Regions from separate parts of the Homo sapiens genome. Here region 2 is linked to region 1. A link means that fine-mapping ties the variant in region 1 to the expression of a gene that starts in the linked region. Tissue or cell type: whole blood. Region 1 holds a variant in brackets; the other region holds the start of a gene. All regions are shown on one strand. Distances are from middle to middle.

Region 1 (5,488 bases):
TGAGAGTCTCGCCTTGTCACCCAGGCTGTAGTTCCTCTCTGTTCCATTGGTCTATATATCTGTTTTGGTACCAGTACCATGCTGTTTTTGTTACTTTAGCCTTGTAGTATAGTTTATAGCATTGTAGTATAGATTGCAATGGCACGATCTCGGCTCACTGCAAGCTCTGCCTCCCAGGTTCAAATGATTCTCCTGCCTCAGTCTCCTGAGAGCTGGGATTACAGGCGTCTGCCACCACGCCCAGCTAATATTTGCATTTTTTCAGTAGAGACAGGTTTTACCATGTTGGCCAGGCTGATCTCGAGCTCCTGACTGTGTGATCTGCCTGCCTCAGCCTCCCAAAGTGCTGGAATTACAGGTGTGAGCCACTGCGCCTGGCCTCGTAGTTCATTTTCTTTGTTGTATAATGCATTGTATGACTAGATCACAGTTTATTTATCCTTTATGCTGATGAACAAACATGTGGGTTGTTTTCAGCTTTGGGGTATTTTAAACAGTGTTGCTATAAATAGTTTTGCACATGTCTTTTGGTGCACATATACACACATTTCTGTCAGGCATATACAACAAGTAGAATTGCTTGGTTATGGCATATACATATCTTCAACTTCAGTAGAGAATACCAACCAGTTAAAAAAATTTTTTTATTATACTTTAAGTTCTAGGGTACAGTGCAGAACGTGCAGTTTTGTTACATAGGTATATACATGCCATGGTGGTTTGCTGCACCCATCAACCCGTCACCTACCTTAGGTATTTCTCCTAATGCTATCCCTCCCCCAGTCCCCCACCCATGACAGGCCCCAGTGTGTGATACCTCCCTATGTCCATGTGTTCTCATTGTTCAACTCCCACTTATGAGTAAGAACATGCGGTGTTTGGTTTTCTGTTCTTAGTTTGCTGAGAATGATGGTTTCCAGCATCATCCATGTCCCTGCAAAGGACATCGTTTTCATGGCTGCATGGTATTCCATGGTGCATATGTGCCACATTTTCTTAATCCAGCCTATCACTGATGGGCATTTGGGTTGGTTTCAAGTCTTTGCTATTGTGAATAGTGCTGCAATAAACATACATGTGCACGTGTCTATACAGTAGAATAATTTATAATCCTTTGAGTATATACTCAGTAATGGGATTGCTGGGTCAAATGGTATTTCTGGTTCTAGATCTTTGAGGACTCATCACATTGTATTCCACAATCATTGAACTAATTTACACTCCCACCAACAGTGTAAAATTGTCCCTATTTCTCCACATCCTCTTCAGCATCTGTTGTTGCCTGGCTTTTTAATGATCACCATTCTAACTGGGGTGAGATGGTATCTCATTGTGGTTTTGATTTGCATTTCTCTAATGACCAGTGATGATGAGCTTTTTTTCCTACGTTTGTTGGCTGCATAAATGTCTTCTTTTGAGAAGTGTCTGTTCATATCCTTCATCCACTTTTTGATGGGGTTGTTTTTTTTCTTGTAAATTTGTTTAAGTTCTTTGTAGATTCTGTATATTAGCCCTTTGTCAGATGGATAGATTGCAAAAATTTTCTCCTATTCTGTAGGTTGCATGTTCACTCTGATGATAGTTTCTTTTGCTGTGCAGTAACTCTTTAGTTTAATTAGATCCCATTTGTCAATTTTGGCTTTTGTTGCCATTGCTTTTTGTGTTTTAGTCATGAAGTCTTTGCCCATGCCTATGTCCCGAATGGTATTGCCTAGGTTTTCTTCTAGGGTTTTTATGGTTTTAGGTCTAACATTTAAGTCTTTAATCCATCTTGAATTAATTTTTGTATAAAGTGTAAGGAAGGGGTCCAGTTTCAGTTGTCCGCATATGGCTAGTTTTCCCAACACCTTTTATTAAACAGGGAATCCTTTCCCCATTACTTGTTTTTGTCAGATTTGTCAAAGATCAGATGGTTGTAGACATGTGGTGTTATTTCTGAGGCCTCTCTGTTCCATTGGTCTAGATATCTGTTTTGGTACCAGTACCATGCTGTTTTTGTTACTTTAGCCTTGCAGTATAGTTTAAAGTCAGGTAGCATGATGCCTCCAGCTTTGTTCTTTTTGTTTAGGATTTTCTTGGCCATGCGGCCTCTTTTTTGGTTCCATATGAAATTTAAAGTAGTTTTTTCCAGTTCTGTGAACAAAGTTAATGAGAGCTTGATGGAGATAGCATTGAATCTATAAATTACTTTGGGCATGTGTGAGGAAGGTACTTGTTCTAGCACTCACCAAATTCCAGATAAGAGACACGAAGTTCTCCAGTAGTACTTTTCAATCTCTCATCAACAAACTTAAGATTAGTTCCTTCTTTCCTTATGGAGGGAGGGGTAAAAGAATACTCTGAGAGATAACTTCAAATATTCCTCTCCACCAACCTCCAACTGTCTCTCTCTTTCATACCCTAAAAAAGTTGAAGGCTTAACGCTTGTATGCCATCTCTTGATCACCTCCATGTACGTCCTCCCTAATGGTGTAGCACCTCAGTTTAGAATGTGGAGGTACATGGCAAATATTGTTTTATTTTTAGATTTCAGGTAATATTTCTATGGTATGACATTAGTATAGAGA[C/A]AATAATCTAACTGAACTTTTGGGAAGTTGAGTCAAGGAGTGTAAGCTTAAAATAATGTACCATAATATTTATGAGTCTGCTCCACTAGAGCATATTATTATTCATATACTCATATTATTATGAGTTCATGATAATTATGAGTCTGCTCCACCAGACTCATCATTCAATTATTTCTTTTTCTTTTTGAACATTCTAGTAAATTTAAGAATATACTTCTGGAAATTCATTGTTATAAACTTTATTGTTTTACACTGTAGCAAATGAGGGCAATGCCCACTACATATTCTTTTAACTTATCATTTCAGGGCATGCTGACATCTGACAGCCATCTTTTGCAACAGAACTTTCTTTGGCTAACATGCCAGTTATGCCCACTTGCCCAGAAGATCAGAATGGCCTAAGATACTAATGTGCCCTACACCAAGCCGCCTTAATTGATAATTGATGAGAATTGGTGTGTAAAAACCCCTAGATTTCTGATAGAGTTTGGATGTTGTCCCCTCTAAATCTCATATTGAATTGTAATCCCCAGTGCTGGAGGAGGAGCCTGGTGGGAGGTGACTGGGACATCGGTGTAGATCCCTCATGGCTTGGTGCTGTCCTCCCAATAGTGACTATTCACAAGATCTGATTGTTTAAAAGTGTGTGGTACCTTCTCTCCCCTACTCTCTCTCGCTCCCTCTCTTGCCATGTGACATGTCTGCTCCCGCTTTGCCTTCACCACCATAAATAAAAGCTCCCTGAAGCCTCACCAGATCTGAGTAGTTGCCAGTGCCAGGCTTCCTGTACAGCCTGCAGAACTGTGACCCAATTAAGCCTTTCTTTATAAATTACCCAATCTCATGTATTTTTTATAGCAATGTAAGAATGGCCTACACAATCTCTTACATCGTAGTTGAGGTATACCTCTGAGATACATGTTCTACTCTTTCCAAGAATTCCTTAAGAAGATTAGGAATCAGTTGCCCACAATAAGACAACTCACTCGTTATTGAGTCTTTTCTTTGTCTGTTTCCCTCTTGCAAATTCTACTAGTTTTTCCTGGAATTACTTCCTAAATATATTACGTATTCAAATTCTTGCTCAGAATCAAATTCTGAGGGAACCCACATTAAGATAAACTGATTGTTCCTCAGCAAAAAAACAAAGCTGGAGGCATCATGCTACCTGAATTCAAACTATATTACAAGGCTACAGTAACCAAAACAGCATGGTACTGGTACCAAAACAGAGATAAAGACCAATGGAACAGAACAGAGCCCTCAGAAATAATACCACACATCCACAAACATCTGATCTTTGACAAACCTGACAAAAACAAGAAATGGGGAAAGGATTCCCTATTTAATAAATGGTGCTTGGAAAACTGGCTAGCCACATGTAGAAAGCTGAAACTGGATCCCTTCCTTACACCTTATACAAAAATTAATTCAAGGTGAATTAAAGACTTAAATGTTAGACCTAAAACCATAAAAGCCCTAGAACAAAATCTAGGCAATACCATTTAGGACCTAGGCATGGGCAAGGACTTCATGACTAAAACACCAAAAGCAATGGCAACAAAAGCCAAAATAGACAAATGGGATCTAATGAAACTAAAGAGCTTCTGCACAGCAAAAGAAACTACCATCAGAGTGAACAGGCAACCTACAGAATGGGAGAAAAATTTTGCAATCTACCCATCTGACAAAGTGCTAATATACAGAATCTACAAAGAACTTAAACAAATTTACAAGAAAAAAACAAACAACCCTATCAAAAAGGGGGCAAAGGATATGAACAGACACTTCTCAAAAGAAGACATTTATGCAGCCAACAGACACATCAAAAAATGCTCATCATCACTGGTCATTAGAGAAACGCAAATCAAAACCACAATGAGATACCATCTCACCCCAGTTAGAATGGTGATCATTAAAAAGTCAGGAAACCACAGGTGCTGGAAAGGATGTGGAGAAATAGGAATGCTTTTACACTGTTGGTGGGAGTGTAAACTAGTTCAACCATTGTGGAAGACAGTGTGGCGAGTCTTCAAGGATCTAGAACTAGAAATACCATTTGACCCAGTGACCCCATTACTGGATATATACCCAAAGGATTATAAATCATGTGACTATAAAGACACATGCACACATATGTTTACTGCAGCACTATTCACAATAGCAAAGACTTGGAACCAACCCAAATGTCCAACAATGATAGACTAGATTAAGAAAATGTGGCACATATACACCATGGAATACTATGCAGCCATAAAAACGGATGAATTCTTGTCCTTTGCAGGGACATGGATGAAGCTGGAAACCATCACTCTGAGCAAACTATCACAAGGACAGAAAACCAAACACCACATGTTCTCACTCATAGGTGGGAATTGAACAATGACTACATATGGACACAGGGCGGGGAACATCACACACTGGGACCTGTCGTGGGGTGGGGAACTGGGGGAGGTATAGCATTAGGAGAAATACCTAATGTAAATCACGAGTTAATGGGTGAGCAAAACAGCATAGCACATGTATACCTATGTAACAAACCTGCACGTTGCGCACATGTACCCTAGAACTTAAAGTAAAAAAAAAAAAAAAGAAGAACTGTTTGTAATTGTTTTCCCTTGCCTGAAAATTGTCTTTGAATTCATGCTGTCTCTGCCTACTTTGGAAGTATTTCTCTGATACCAAAGGCAGAGAATGACACTACAAGAAAACAAAATTACAGGCCAATTCATCTAATGAACATAGATGCAAAAATTCTCAACAAAAATATGACCAAACCAAACTCAACCGAACATTGAAAAGATCATTCACAATGATCAATCTGGGATTTACTTCGAGGATGCAAGGATGGTTCAACGTGTGCAAAACAGTAAATGTGATATGCTGCATTTATACAGTGAAGCTTCTGCATAGCAAAGGAA
Region 2 (4,000 bases), 140 kb before region 1:
AACATGGGTTTCCGTAGGTCCTCCCACATAGTGATGAAACTCAGCCCCAGGGAGCAGCAGCTCTGCTTGTCTGGAGGTCAGAGAACAGAGGTCAGAAAGCTCAAAACGGAACAGAAGAAGCTACCTCTGAGCATCCCTGGGCAGTCAGTCACTGTCTCCCCATGCATTAGCTCCCACCCACAAGCCCCAGCAAGCTCTCAACTCCCTCCCATCCATCTCACTGATGGGATGACTGGTGCCCTCCATGGAGCAATCATTTCCTCTCACCGGATGCTCAGCCAGCAAGTCAGAAAGTCCTGTGTGATCACAGAATGGCACTTCTGGGCTCCGGCTGCCAAGAGCCATTTTTGCACCGTGTGGAGGGTCAGTGGGGATGGCCTCACCAGATCAGCCACATTCTCTAGGGTCAGGTATTTTCCTGCAGGGATTCAGAAGAGGCACTTGCCCTCATTCATTGCTTTCCCAAACTCCCCCTTTTGGACCTCAACTATGAGACATCAGGACTTCCCAAAGCCTGGAACAGGGTAAAGGAGGGCTATGTGTGCAGGTGTAGGGTGTACTTGGGAAGCAGAGGAAGAAAAGGCTGGAGAGACTTGAAATGCCATGGCCAATAATATGGATTTACCCTAAAGGCCAGTAAGTTGCAAATGTCGCACCACAGCATGTATTGCCATGATCATGAAAATGAATGAGGTTAATACATATAAATTTTCCATTTTAATTTTAAGCTTATGTCCGGTAAATGTTTTCAAATCTTTCGGTACCAGTTATTCAGTTTAGCTCAAATTTGCATACTTGTTGATTTTAAGCTTAACACGATGGTGAGTCACTGTTTCCTGCCATGCACACTAGTGTCACACTGCCCCGTCCCCAGCCTCTGCAGTTCACAAGCACACACTCCCCCTGCTGTGAAGGGCTTTAACCAGGAGAAGGAACCAATCCATTTTGACTGTTGGAGAGACTGTTTTGAAGCAGAGTGGGGGAGTACAGTGAGGGGTGGGGTGGAGGGAGGAGACTGCAGATCAGCTGGGGAGCTGGGCAGTAGTCCAGGAGTGGGAATAAATAACGGAGTTGGTCGTAACAAAAGACGGCAAGAAGGAGATTAATCCAAAGGCTCTTTGGGAGTTAGAACTGGCAGCCTTAGTATGTGAACAAAAGAGGAAATTAGAATGGATTTGAGGGTAGGGGAAGGAACGTAAGTTGTACTAGATGCCTGGTAGCTAGTAAGTAGCAGAGTCAGAATTTGAGTTCGTATTTGATCATAAAGCCTGTATACTGAACCACATCCCCTTTTAGGTTTCTAGCCTGAGGAACACAAGTGTCTTGGCAGGCTCTGACATGATCGCCATCCCATGCCCAACCCAGCCCTGTGTCCCTCCACCGCATCCCACATCCTGTCCTCAGTCCCAAAAGGCACCGTATTGAGGAGAGCTGGGATCCGACACAGCCTGCACCAGCTCCGAGAGTCTTTCCACATTCTGCTGTCTCAGGGCAAAGGTGAGACTCAGCTCTTCCTCAGGGTCCGCACGGCCCAGGGACACCCAGCCTGGGGGCAGCCTGTAGGGTCAGGGGTCAGGGACATGGCTTTGGTTAGGGTGGAGATGGAAAATATTGGTCATGGAAGGTTCCAGATTAGGAGCTGAGACCTTGGGGAGGATCCTAGGAGCAGATACAGATCACATGAGGTGAATGATAGGGGACTGAGGCTAGGAACATAGAGATGAAGCTATGGAGTGCGTACTAGGAGCTGGCACGGGGGTGAGAGAAGCTAGGACCAGGACAGTGGGAGGCAGAACAGGGTATGGGGAAGGGGGCAGTCTGTGCTAAGTCAACTCACGTCCTCCGCTGGTCGGGCTCCGGGCTGTAACTGCATTTGCCAGAGAGGATGAGGGCAAAGAGCCCTAGGAGGCTGTAGGGGCAGCAGGTGGGTTTCAGTGGGAGCTACGTTGTCCTTGTGTTCCCACCCTCCCAATGTGTGCTCCCTCCAACGTGATCCCTTTCTCCCGAGCCCTCTCAATTTCTCACCAGGCTTGGAGTCCCATTCTGCCCTTCCGCGGATCTGCTGTCATGTGACGGATCACATGAGCTCTATATTCCACCACCACTACCCCTCTGCCTAGTAACTAGTGACGGTACTGGCTCCTCCCTTGCATGGGTGGTCCCAAATGCTAGGCAAGGGTGGGGCCGCCACCCGGATTCTCCCCTCTGGCCAGTCAAGCACTGAGTAAGCCCAGGGCTCCCCACCTGCGTCCTGAGCCTGGTCCCCTGGGAATCACCACAAGTGAGTGGGCTGTAGAGACCCACAGACTGGGGTTCTTCCTAGCTGTATGACATCAGCAAAATAACCTCTCAGAGCCTAGGTTTCTGCATTTACAATATGGAGACTTATATAAAAGTGATCTGCCTCGAAAGATTGCAGTGAAAAAATTTTTTTCCTCTTTTATCCTTTATGTCCCCATATTATCAATTTTGTCTTCATTTTACGACTACATTTATGAACAGAGTAAAGCTTTTGCAAGACCAGGATCCTTTTATTCAAATCAGTTTCCAGTTTTAAGTAGCTTCCCAGGAGATCTACAATCAGCTGGGGTCCTGTTTATTATGGGTTCCCAAGGTTTTCAAGGAAATCAACTTTGTTCTAAGGGCCATGGAGGAATCTTGCATCTTGTTTAGTGGGCTCAGGTGGATAAAATGGAAACGGACCTTTGCTTCTTCTAATGGTAACTCAAAGCCCACAAGGAGGTCTGAGTTTACTACTTCCAACTGGGGTCATTACAAGAGGATTTTCAATGAGAGTTAAAACCCTGAGGATTCAATTCCCTTCCAGTCTTCCTTTTTTTCCCCCCAAAAATCCATATGGAAGATGGTGTCAGCAGTGTCATTTTAACTTCCAAAACCATTAATCCAATACTCATGTGAAATCCCTTGTTCTGACCTCAATACTTTTTAGATAGATCCCTCTACTCCTGCTGTTGTCCTACAGGCCACTGGCTTCCATTAACCTATAGATTATATTCCCACACTGAAGATTATGGCACTTCACCTTTCTGTCCATCCCAACTCCTGCGATCATTTGACCTAGATGATCAAAATATCTAGGTAAAAGACCCATTCAACACCCTAACCTTCCATTTCTTCATCTCATTAAACCCAGTGAGCATTACCTTCACTTCACTTAAGCAAACCAGTCCCATGGCTGCATTGGGCTTGCTATCTCTCAAAACTGCTCTACCTTTGAAATTATAATTATAGAATGCTTTCTTAGACTATAACCTTCTGTTTTTTCAAGCCATTGTTTTTCCTCACTCCTATTAATCTGACTTCTCTCTGTCCATTGATCCCTCCAGTTTCCCACTAAGCGTGGATCCTAGAGCTGTATTTACTAGCATCATGCTCAGAAACATTTCCCTTTGACCACAACTTTTTTTTTTTTTTCTAATTTCCTCAATCTCATGAACTTCTCAAACACTGGCCAATTGCCTTTCCCTCACAGCCTGGCTCCCCAAAGAACAGGCAACACCAGTGGTTCCCAAATCCCTTTGTATGACTGTGAAAATTTACACTGAGATTAAGCAAGGCAGCCACCTGCAGAGAGCCTGACATGACAAAGGCTCAACAAATTGAGCTCTTTTTACAATGTGGATTTTTAGTGGCCCCCAAGAAGAACAAATAAACCACTTGACTGCTCTTGTACCCACCCCAACTTATTTTAAGAACTTCGGGCCCAGAGCTGCTCATCCCCAAGATCCCCTCTCCCACCCAACTGATCCCTCTCAAGGCCCTGCTGGCCTCTTTGCCCATATTAGAGGGAAAAGAATAGCTGCAGAGAGATGTGATCATCAGCCTCAGGCTAGGCTCCTGAGCTCCCAGTGCCATCCCCACCCCACCACCCCTCTGTGCCTCCTGAGGTATCCACAATACTCTGCCAGGTGTCTTCCAGTCATCCCTATAGAACAAAGCTGGAGACTGGATACAAATTGCAGTTTATTAAGGCTCCAGA

What was found. PIP is the estimated chance that this variant, and not a neighbour inherited with it, causes the effect.
Region 2: TPP1 starts here. The variant in region 1 is fine-mapped to the expression of TPP1 in whole blood (INTERVAL, PIP above 0.99).

What each region holds. Positions count from the first base shown.
Region 1 is chr11:6,759,349-6,764,836 of GRCh38, forward strand. No RefSeq gene overlaps it. Among named protein-coding and RNA genes, the nearest start is that of OR2AG2, 9.9 kb to the right of the region's middle. The variant C/A (reference allele first, on the strand shown) is at 2,568.
Region 2 is chr11:6,617,359-6,621,358 of GRCh38, forward strand. It overlaps TPP1 (tripeptidyl peptidase 1), which reads right to left and starts at 2,064. Exons shown (of 13, transcript NM_000391.4): 1 at 2,026-2,064; 2 at 1,838-1,909; 3 at 1,418-1,557; 4 at 268-418; 5 at 1-70. The coding sequence starts at 2,042. It overlaps DCHS1 (dachsous cadherin-related 1), which reads right to left. Exons shown (of 21, transcript NM_003737.4): 21 at 3,972-4,000. RefSeq lists a silencer at 1,785-1,834 and an enhancer at 2,385-2,434.